Linked DNA regions of Homo sapiens: region 2 is linked to region 1. Evidence: fine-mapped expression QTL. Tissue or cell type: macrophages. Region 1 holds a variant in brackets; the other region holds the start of a gene. All regions are shown on one strand. Distances are between the middles of the regions. Region 1 overlaps PDE8A (phosphodiesterase 8A). Region 2 holds the start of PDE8A (phosphodiesterase 8A).

The links. PIP is the estimated chance that this variant, and not a neighbour inherited with it, causes the effect.
Region 2: PDE8A starts here. The variant in region 1 is fine-mapped to the expression of PDE8A in macrophages (Nedelec 2016, PIP 0.95).

Annotation. Positions count from the first base shown.
Region 1 is chr15:85,004,323-85,008,322 of GRCh38, forward strand. All of the region lies in intron 1 of PDE8A (phosphodiesterase 8A), which reads left to right. Among named protein-coding and RNA genes, the nearest start is that of PDE8A, 24 kb to the left of the region's middle. The variant G/C (reference allele first, on the strand shown) is at 1,682.
Region 2 is chr15:84,979,802-84,984,249 of GRCh38, forward strand. It overlaps PDE8A (phosphodiesterase 8A), which reads left to right and starts at 2,055. Exons shown (of 22, transcript NM_002605.3): 1 at 2,055-2,547. The coding sequence starts at 2,362. RefSeq lists enhancers at 1-54, 55-554, 1,704-2,236 and silencers at 507-556, 1,117-1,166, 1,487-1,976.

The sequences.
Region 1 (4,000 bases):
CATGGAATTCATCTGGTCCCAGTTACTAATTCAGGGGCAGGCATGTCATAGAAACTGTCCCAATCAGACTATGGAGTGGTTGGGGGAAGATGTTCCTCCCACCTCCCTCACAGCCCCCCACAGTGAGGACAAAGCCAACTCCTGGGTGAGAATAGGCTTAGAGAATTGCAAACCCGTATTGTGAAGTCCTACCAAACCTTTCCTGAAGCTCGCAAGAGCTGACCCTGGACTCTGCGTTAGCATGAGGCAGTAAATCCACTCTATCGCCTAATACTTTAAGATTAATTTTCTTGACTTGCAACCACAAGCATCCTGGCTGATACAACCAATGAAATGGAAGAGGAATAGGGAGAGAGAAAGGATACAATCTGAATCTCTAAGTTCTGCTTCCGTTCATTGCTGTCAGTTCTATGATGTTTCTTTGAATACTTGAACACAACCAAGTTGGGTCTGAATGGATGTATCTTAGTTTCACTTCCCCATTCTCTGGAATTAGAGTGGGGATAATTACATTTTTTAATATTCTTTTTTTTTTTTTTTTACCTTTAGACAATGTTTTCTCTCTGGATTGAATGATACATAGTTTCTTTGAAGAATACATTATGACATTTTATTTCTCTTCCACCATAATGGAATCATATGGACTCAACATAGTCCATATGATTTTTTTTCCTGTTTTGTTTTAGTGACTTTTCTAAAGTTTGTCTTTTCATCTAGGAAGTATATAGAATACATTTATCTTACACATTGCAGTATGCATTTGTTTTATAGCTGGGTATTATCTCTATATTACTATAGGACTTTTTTTTGTTTTTTGTTTTGAAACAGGGTCTTGCTGTGTCACCCAGACTGGAGTATAGTGGCATGATCACAGCTTGAGCTCCTGGGCTCAAATGATCCTCTCACCTCAGCCCCCTGAGTAGCTGGGACTGCTGCCATGCACCACCACATCTGGCTAATGTTTTAATTTTTTTGTAGAGAAAGGTTCTCACTATATTGCCCAGGCTGGTCTTGAACTCCCGGACTCAAGCAATCTTCCTGCCTTGGCCTCCCAAAGTGTTGGGATTACAAGTATGTGCCACTGTGCCCAGCTGTTATTACAGGAACTTTTAATATTTTGAGTTAAATATTCCAGGCCATTTTAGAATTTGAATAGCTTGTCAAATTTGTTGATTTTATAGCACCTCCGTCTTGAAAAATATGCCCCCTGGTGTTCCTAAAAGAACATTTTGAGAGAATTATATGGTATTTAGTAAGGCAATTAGAAATCACCAAGTATTTAGGGACTATTGCTTAAGAAGCTAATTTGCACAATCAGAATTCATTAGCCCAGGACACAGACACCTTATACACCTGTGGTGACAAATGAAAACTGTGAAAGTCCAATCTGATTCATTCCTCTCAGAATATGGAGGACAGGAGAGTGGGGACAACCTCAGCATTAGGACTGCCCTCTCTCGTTTTGTTTCAAAAAGAGTTTAAGTAACTTAAAAAATACATATAATAAGTTTAAAAAAAAAAGGAAATTGGGCCAAGGGAACATGGCGAGAACTGACCAATTAAGTCAGGAGTGAGGTCAGTATGTGGAAACACATGCCACAGGGGCATGCATGATTGCCATGGGGCTGGGTCACACGTTCGGCTCTGAGCTTCCACAGCCTCACCAAATACGAAAACAGTT[G/C]CAGAATTCTGGAGATTTAAAAATGGCAAATGACTCAGGAGAAGTACAGTTTCTGAGCTCAGACCTAAAGAAATTATTCTCTCAGGAAGGGGAACATCACACTCTGGGGACTGTTGTGAGGTGGGGGGAGGGATAGCATTAGGAGACATACCTAATGCTAAATGACGAGTTAATGGGTGCAGCACACCAGCATGGCACATGTATACATATGTAACTAACCGGCACATTGTGCACATGTACCCTAAAACTTAAAGTATTATTATTATAATAATAATAATAAAAGAAAGTATTCTCATGGGTCCTTTCAGAGGGACAAGGTTCTGAACAATGTTGCCATCATAAATGTGGTGGTGAATGTCTCTCAGTGCAAGCTGAGGGCAGGATGCCATACACAGATTCCAGGTGGGGCTAAAGTACATGGTCCAGGCACTCAGTTAGTTTGATTTGGGAATTAACATTTAGTCTACCTGGAAGAATGTGGTATTACCCATTTTTAATCTTGGCCAATTTTATTTGCATTAAGTTGATTTGAAACGGATATCAGTCTTTGTCCATATGTTTATCAACCATTTGTAATTTTTTTTATATTGTCTATTACTTTGGCTGTTTTCCTATTGGAGAAATAGAGTTTTTCTTCTTGTGTAGATTTTTTAAAAGTTAAGAATGTTAATCTTTTTGTCATGTGTGGTGAATAACTTTTTTTTTTTCCCTGGTTTGCCTTTTAAACTTACCCCTGGTAAACATTTTTAGGATTGCTCACTGAAATAGGAGGGAATTAGGCTACTGTATTGCGAGTGGGAGGATGAGATTAGGGCATGTATATGATGTCCCTTCTGGCATTAGAGACTTTTGACATGTACTTGAGAAGAGGGAATATTTGGAATTTGGACTAGTCCCTACGAAGAGGAGAGGAGGAGTGGTTGGGGACATGGAGAAAGCACCTTCGGCAGCACTTGGTGTCCAGCTGTGGTGGGACATTGTGCATTTAATTACCATTCTGCAAGCTGTGTGATCTTCAGCAGTGTTTGGCCATTCTTCTGTACATGGGTGAAAGATAGACAGTTAGATTGATCTGGAATTGGAGTTTTGCATTTCGCAGAATGTCCAGTAGCTACTGATGAGAGAGCAAAAGTGTGGGATGTGGGTTTGGGTTTGATAGAAGGGAAAAGCATTAGAGGGGGACTAGGAGAACAGATGATATAGGGCCAGGCAGTGTCAGTTAAAGGGGCCAAATGATTATATGCTTAGAGCAGTGCCTAATAGGTGGAGCTTCTCAACACGATTCAGCATGGGTGGTGGTGGTAAGTGAAGACTGAAGAAGCAGCCAGCCACAGTAGCACAAAAGCAGGCAAAACAGATCTGTGCTGTTAGAATTCAGCACAGTGGTACTGGGAGGGGACACAGGGCGGCTTCTAGTATGCCGGTAATGTTGCTTCTTGATCTGGGTGCTGGTTATACAGGTACGTTCAGTTTGCAAAAATAAATCTATTAGTACAGTTACGCTATATGTACTTTCTGTGTATGTTCAATAAAATGTAAAAAATAATGAAAGAGAGCACATACTTCGGTGCCCCACCACATTGTTTTCAGATCTCAGCTCTGCAACTTTATAGCTGTGAGACCTTGGGCAAATTACTTAACCTGTTTGTGCCTCAGATTTCAAGTCATATAAAATGAGAATAATACGTACATCACAGGAGTGCTGGGAGGATTAAATGAGTCTCCCAATAGTGTTGAGTACATAGTAAATACTCCCAGAGTGTTGCGTATTATTATTTTTTAAATAATTATTATAAATGCGAATATGTATGAGGGAGAACTGATGAATTGGAAATTTGTGGTCAGAGAGAGCTCTTGGACATTCTGCCAAATGACATTCCTAAGTATGGCCATACAGTGGTGCCTGTAGTGGAGTGGGGTTGGACTGCAGCTCATAGTCAGAATTAAAGGGAAGGGTGAGGTGGTTGTGTTGCCATATGAACCTTGACCTTGCCCAGGGTGATGGTAGTACTTGGAGTGAGCTTGAAGCACTGAGGTCCTTAATGTATGTGAGTGACTTAGAGGTCAAGAGAAGGTGGCAGGGGTGGCATTGCTGTGTGTTATGAGCCTCAGGGTATCTAGGAGTGACAGTGGGAGAGTCAGAAGCTGGCTCCCTCTAATAGGGAGTGGTCTGGGCAGCTGTGGCCTTTGCAGAAAGTCCTATTCCAGGACTTTCCCTACAGTGTCTGTGCCTGCATAGTCAGTGGCTCAGGGAGGGATCAGAAGCCAGGGAACTTTGCAATGTTGTGATGGTGAAATATGGGTTAATTATATTTGCTT
Region 2 (4,448 bases), 24 kb before region 1:
CCAGCTGATCCCCCAGCCCTAGTCCCCAACTCCTTCATTTAGTGCATGGCCCAAGGACCAACAAGGGAGGCGGGACGCCGAGGTCCTGCCTAGGAGGGGAGGGCCGAGAGGACTAGAGCTGCTTGGAGCCCCAGAAGCGGCAAGGTCAGCGCCGGGAGTCGTCAAGGCCGTACTTCTCTGCAGGGCGGGGAGGAGAGGTCGCGCTTTAAACTTCCATGAACTCTGTTGGTTCCAAGCATTTTCTCCATGAAGTATCCTTTATTTACAAGAGCTCCAGATTCTACCTGGAAAAAAGACCTCTTAAAATTGCAGAGCAAAGGCAGAAAAAAATTATACGATTTAGGCGGAATAAAGAGTGATGTTTAAAAATCTTTTCCTTTGTTTTTTAAGACATCTTCACCAAGCCAGTAGTACTTTTATAAGGCAGAGAAGCATAAATATTAATATTGCTTAATGGGCTTAAACTTGGTAATAGAGCCACGTGCCAGTGGTTCGGGGCAGTTTCGCCAGTAACGTGCTCTCGGGTTACCCTGCTCGGGCCAGAGATCGAGGCTCCGGGGACCCGGCACCTGAACCTGTGCTGCAGTCCCAGCGCGACAGCAGGGAATCCAGCCCGCAGCACGCCTCCGGGTCTTTGCAGTAGCCGGGCCAAGGCGGGAGCGGCTGCCTCTCAGGGTCGCTCCAGGGCCGCGCTAGGAAAGGTGTGGACGGTCGGAGAGGACAGGAAGGAGCCGGCTGCACCGCGCCAGGGTCTCCGCAAACCGGGAGCCCAGGGAGGGCGGGAAGACTGGCGGGGGTCCGAGGCAGCCCGCTACAGGATACGTGATGGACGCCCAGAGACACCGCCCTCCAGCTGGTGGGGGAGGAGCCCCAGCCACCAAGAAGTTAAGTGACTGGCCCAGTTCACACAGCAAGCTAGTGGCTGTGTGCGTGTCCGGGGTCCTCATGGGCCCCAGGCCTGCAATGCGTACGCCCCTTCCCCTGGCTCTGCCTTTGGGGTCTCGGACGCCCGACTAGCACTTTGGTTAAAATGAGAGGAGGACGGGCGCCTGCAGCCTGCCCGGTGCTGTAGCTTTGCGGCCGCCCCGGCGCCTGTGTAATCCGAGGCGTGGCGCGCCAGGTTTTGGCCTGCGAGGGAGCGCACGTGGGCTGCGGCTTCTCGCGGACGCCCAGGCCCCACCCACCCGGGACCCGGCGCGCGGCGCCCCAGTTTGACTTTCACTACCCCCAAAGGAGGTCTTTCCACCGGCCTCTTTTCTGGGTAACAGCTCCAGGGCTCACACTTGGTGACCCCACCGAGGTCAAGTAGCCGCTAAGTTACGGAGCCGGAATTCGAATTTGGCGGTCGGGCTTCTGGTGGCCTCGGGACGGAGGTGGCTGTGTGTCCCTGGGCAAGTCTCTTTCCTTCTCTGGGTAGCCCAGTCGGGCGCCCCGCCTGTCGTCGCCGCGCATGCTCAGTTGCGGGCGGCGTCCGGAGGAGGTGGCGGGCGCCCCAGCTGCTTTGCATTGACGCCAGCACCCGCTGGAGGTCACCGCTGGGGGCTCGGCGCGGCACGCTGCCGGCAAAACCCGGCCCGGATCACGGAGCCGGAGCCGGAGCCGTACCGCCAGCAACTCCTGGGTGCGCGCAGCCGTTTCTGCGCTTCTCGACGGTGCGGCCCCAGGCCCCGCTGGAGCCGAGCTGCTCCCCTCCCTACCCTGGCGGACGTGGCCCGGCCGCTCCGAGGGGTTTCCCTCGGACCCCGCGCCTAAACCCCGGCCAGCGGGAGCGTCTAAGGCTAGCCTTGTACCCCACCGGCACTCGGCCTGGGGGGGCTTTTCCGCGAGGCGGCGGCCCAGCGGGCGGAGCGGCGTGGGTGTCCACATCTAGGCGGAGTCTGGAGCCGGGGAGGCGGCGGCGGCGGCGGCGGGAGCGGGGCCGGGCGCGGCCGGGAGCTCGCCTCCCCCGGGGGTCGTGCCGCAGCTCGGCGAGGGCAGCGTGGCTCGCGCGGCGTGGACTCAGCCGCTCCTGGGTAAGGAGAGCGCAAATCTCCTCCCCCTATTTCCCCGGAAGCGCGGCCGAGGCGAGCCCGGCGATGTGAGAGGCGGCCGTCGGCTCCTGCCTCAGGAAGGGCATGTTCGGAGGGGCGGCCTCGGCACGCCACCCGCCTAAGCGCCCCCTTCCCACCGCAGCCGCCGCCGCCGCAGCGCCCGCACCGCGATAAAAGGGGCGGCCGCGTTTCCTGACGCGAGATCCGCGCTCGCCGCCGCCCGCCCAGGCGGCGATGACACGGCGCCCGCGGCGGCCCGGAGGCGCCGGGTGGGCCGTTTGCTGACCGGATCGCGGCTACCCGCCAGCGTGTCCGCGGCGCCGCCGCCAGCATGGGCTGTGCCCCGAGCATCCACATTTCCGAGCGCCTGGTGGCCGAGGACGCGCCTAGCCCCGCGGCACCGCCGCTGTCGTCCGGCGGGCCGCGCCTCCCGCAGGGCCAGAAGACGGCCGCCTTGCCCCGGACCCGCGGCGCCGGCCTCTTGGAGTCGGAGCTTCGCGACGGCAGCGGCAAGAAGGTAAGGGGCGCCGGGCACTCTGGGGCCGCCGCGAAACTCGGGCCCGGCCAGTAAGCAACTTTCCCGCAGGGGCCGGGCGGGGTCCCCCCCACCCGGCCTCGGTGCCCTCTTGTCCCGCTTTGGATGGTTCTGATTGACGCCAGTCTCCCGCCTTGCCGGGGCAGCGTTCAGAGAAGGACCGACCCAGGTCCCGCGACCCTGATTTCCTAGGGTTGCGATTAGGACGCCGCCTGTGTCGCGGCGTCGGTTTTTTGGACACATCCGACTCCCGGAGCGGCGGGGCCCGATGTGAAGTTGACTGAGGCGCTTGCATCAATTTCCTCTCCAAGAGCGGGTGTTTGAGGGAAACCCCCAGGATATTCTGGCGCGCCCCTGCAATGTTAAATCAGTGTGAACTTTGTTCTTTTCCTGTGGTAGAAAGGGAAGGGCGACTGGCCTCACCACTCTTTTCCCTCTGTCAGCTTTGCACATGCAGTTGCAGGTTACCATTTTCTTCGGGACTGCTAGAATGTAATCTGGAACATCAGCTTTGCTTCATTGCACATGTATTTGAGGTCCACGTTTATTAGCATACATACTGTATTTAAAGCATATGTAATTAGAAAATACTGTGAAACGCGATTTTTGAAGCATTCAGCAGAACAAAGTTAATCTTTTATTAAGCCGACTTACTGGGACATTTTGTGACTGGGGTTTTTTGTTTTTTTACATTGCGTGTCTTCTCCAGCGCATGTTGCCTTGGCTTATGTTTTGTCAAAGTTTCTGGGCTTAGTCTTTGTTGAGGTTTTCTAAAGGAAAGTTAAAAAGGAAAAAGAAAAACGTGATCATTAAGGCACACAGCAGCAGCTTTCCAGTTCTCTCATTTCAGAATTTAAAGCTGGAACTCATGCGTTGGTTTATGTTTTGTTAAACCAGTAAAAGACAACAACAACAAAATTCGTGCATGGCTGCAGATTGTTGGCTGTCATCCCTCTCATCACGACCAGTTTTTGAAAGAGTAATTTGCAAAATTTGTTTGATTTTTCCTTGCTTGCTGAGAACTGCTGAACCTCCGAAGTTTGAGGGATATAGTTTGATGTACTTTCTGTCTTACATTTCTAGCAGTCGTCATGATACTTTTTCTGTACGAAAGGGGAAAGTCTTTTTCAGTGTTGCATAACAGTTGATTTCCCCACCATTCCCATACCCTAAGTGAAAATTCAACTTTGTTCTGATTATCAGAAATTGAATTCCTTCTCCTATAGATTCTTTAAAGAAACCTCTGATGGTTTAGGCTTACTAACTCAAGGTGCTCTTAATATCAGTGTTAAGCTGTGTGTTAAGCCTACTTGGCTTTAAAAAAGTGTTACACAGGTGCATATGGAAACTTTAACAGCTTTCAAGTTTTCAGTCCAAATCTAACATTTTGCAGACTAATGTGATAATTTCAGATTACCAAAGTAGCCCTTTTATAGTGAGGGGCCTTTGTGTCTTACAGGCTTTTTTTGTGGTGGATTGGGTGTCCTAAAATTCACCTAGGTGTCTTGTAAGCCTCCCCAGTGCAGCAGCAGCTTGCTCTTGTGCTATCGCAGTGCCGTTAGGTCCCTGAGTTTTTAAGTACTTACTTCAACCATTCTTCTGTATTGGCAGACCATTGTCTTGTGTTGGGGGCTCAGAAAATACTTTCATCCTTAAAGTGCCTAACCCAGTGGCATACACATAGTAGGTACTAAATAAATGTTTACTGATTTCTTAAAAAATTGTTAACTGATTGATGAAACTTTTTCAGTCATTGGAATTTGATTTCATAAAGCCTCCTATGTAGACTTCAAAATAATAGTATTTCCAGAGCAGGAGTCAAATTATAAATTATAACACCACAACCACAGAAATAATAGCCCCATACTTGTTATTCATGAACT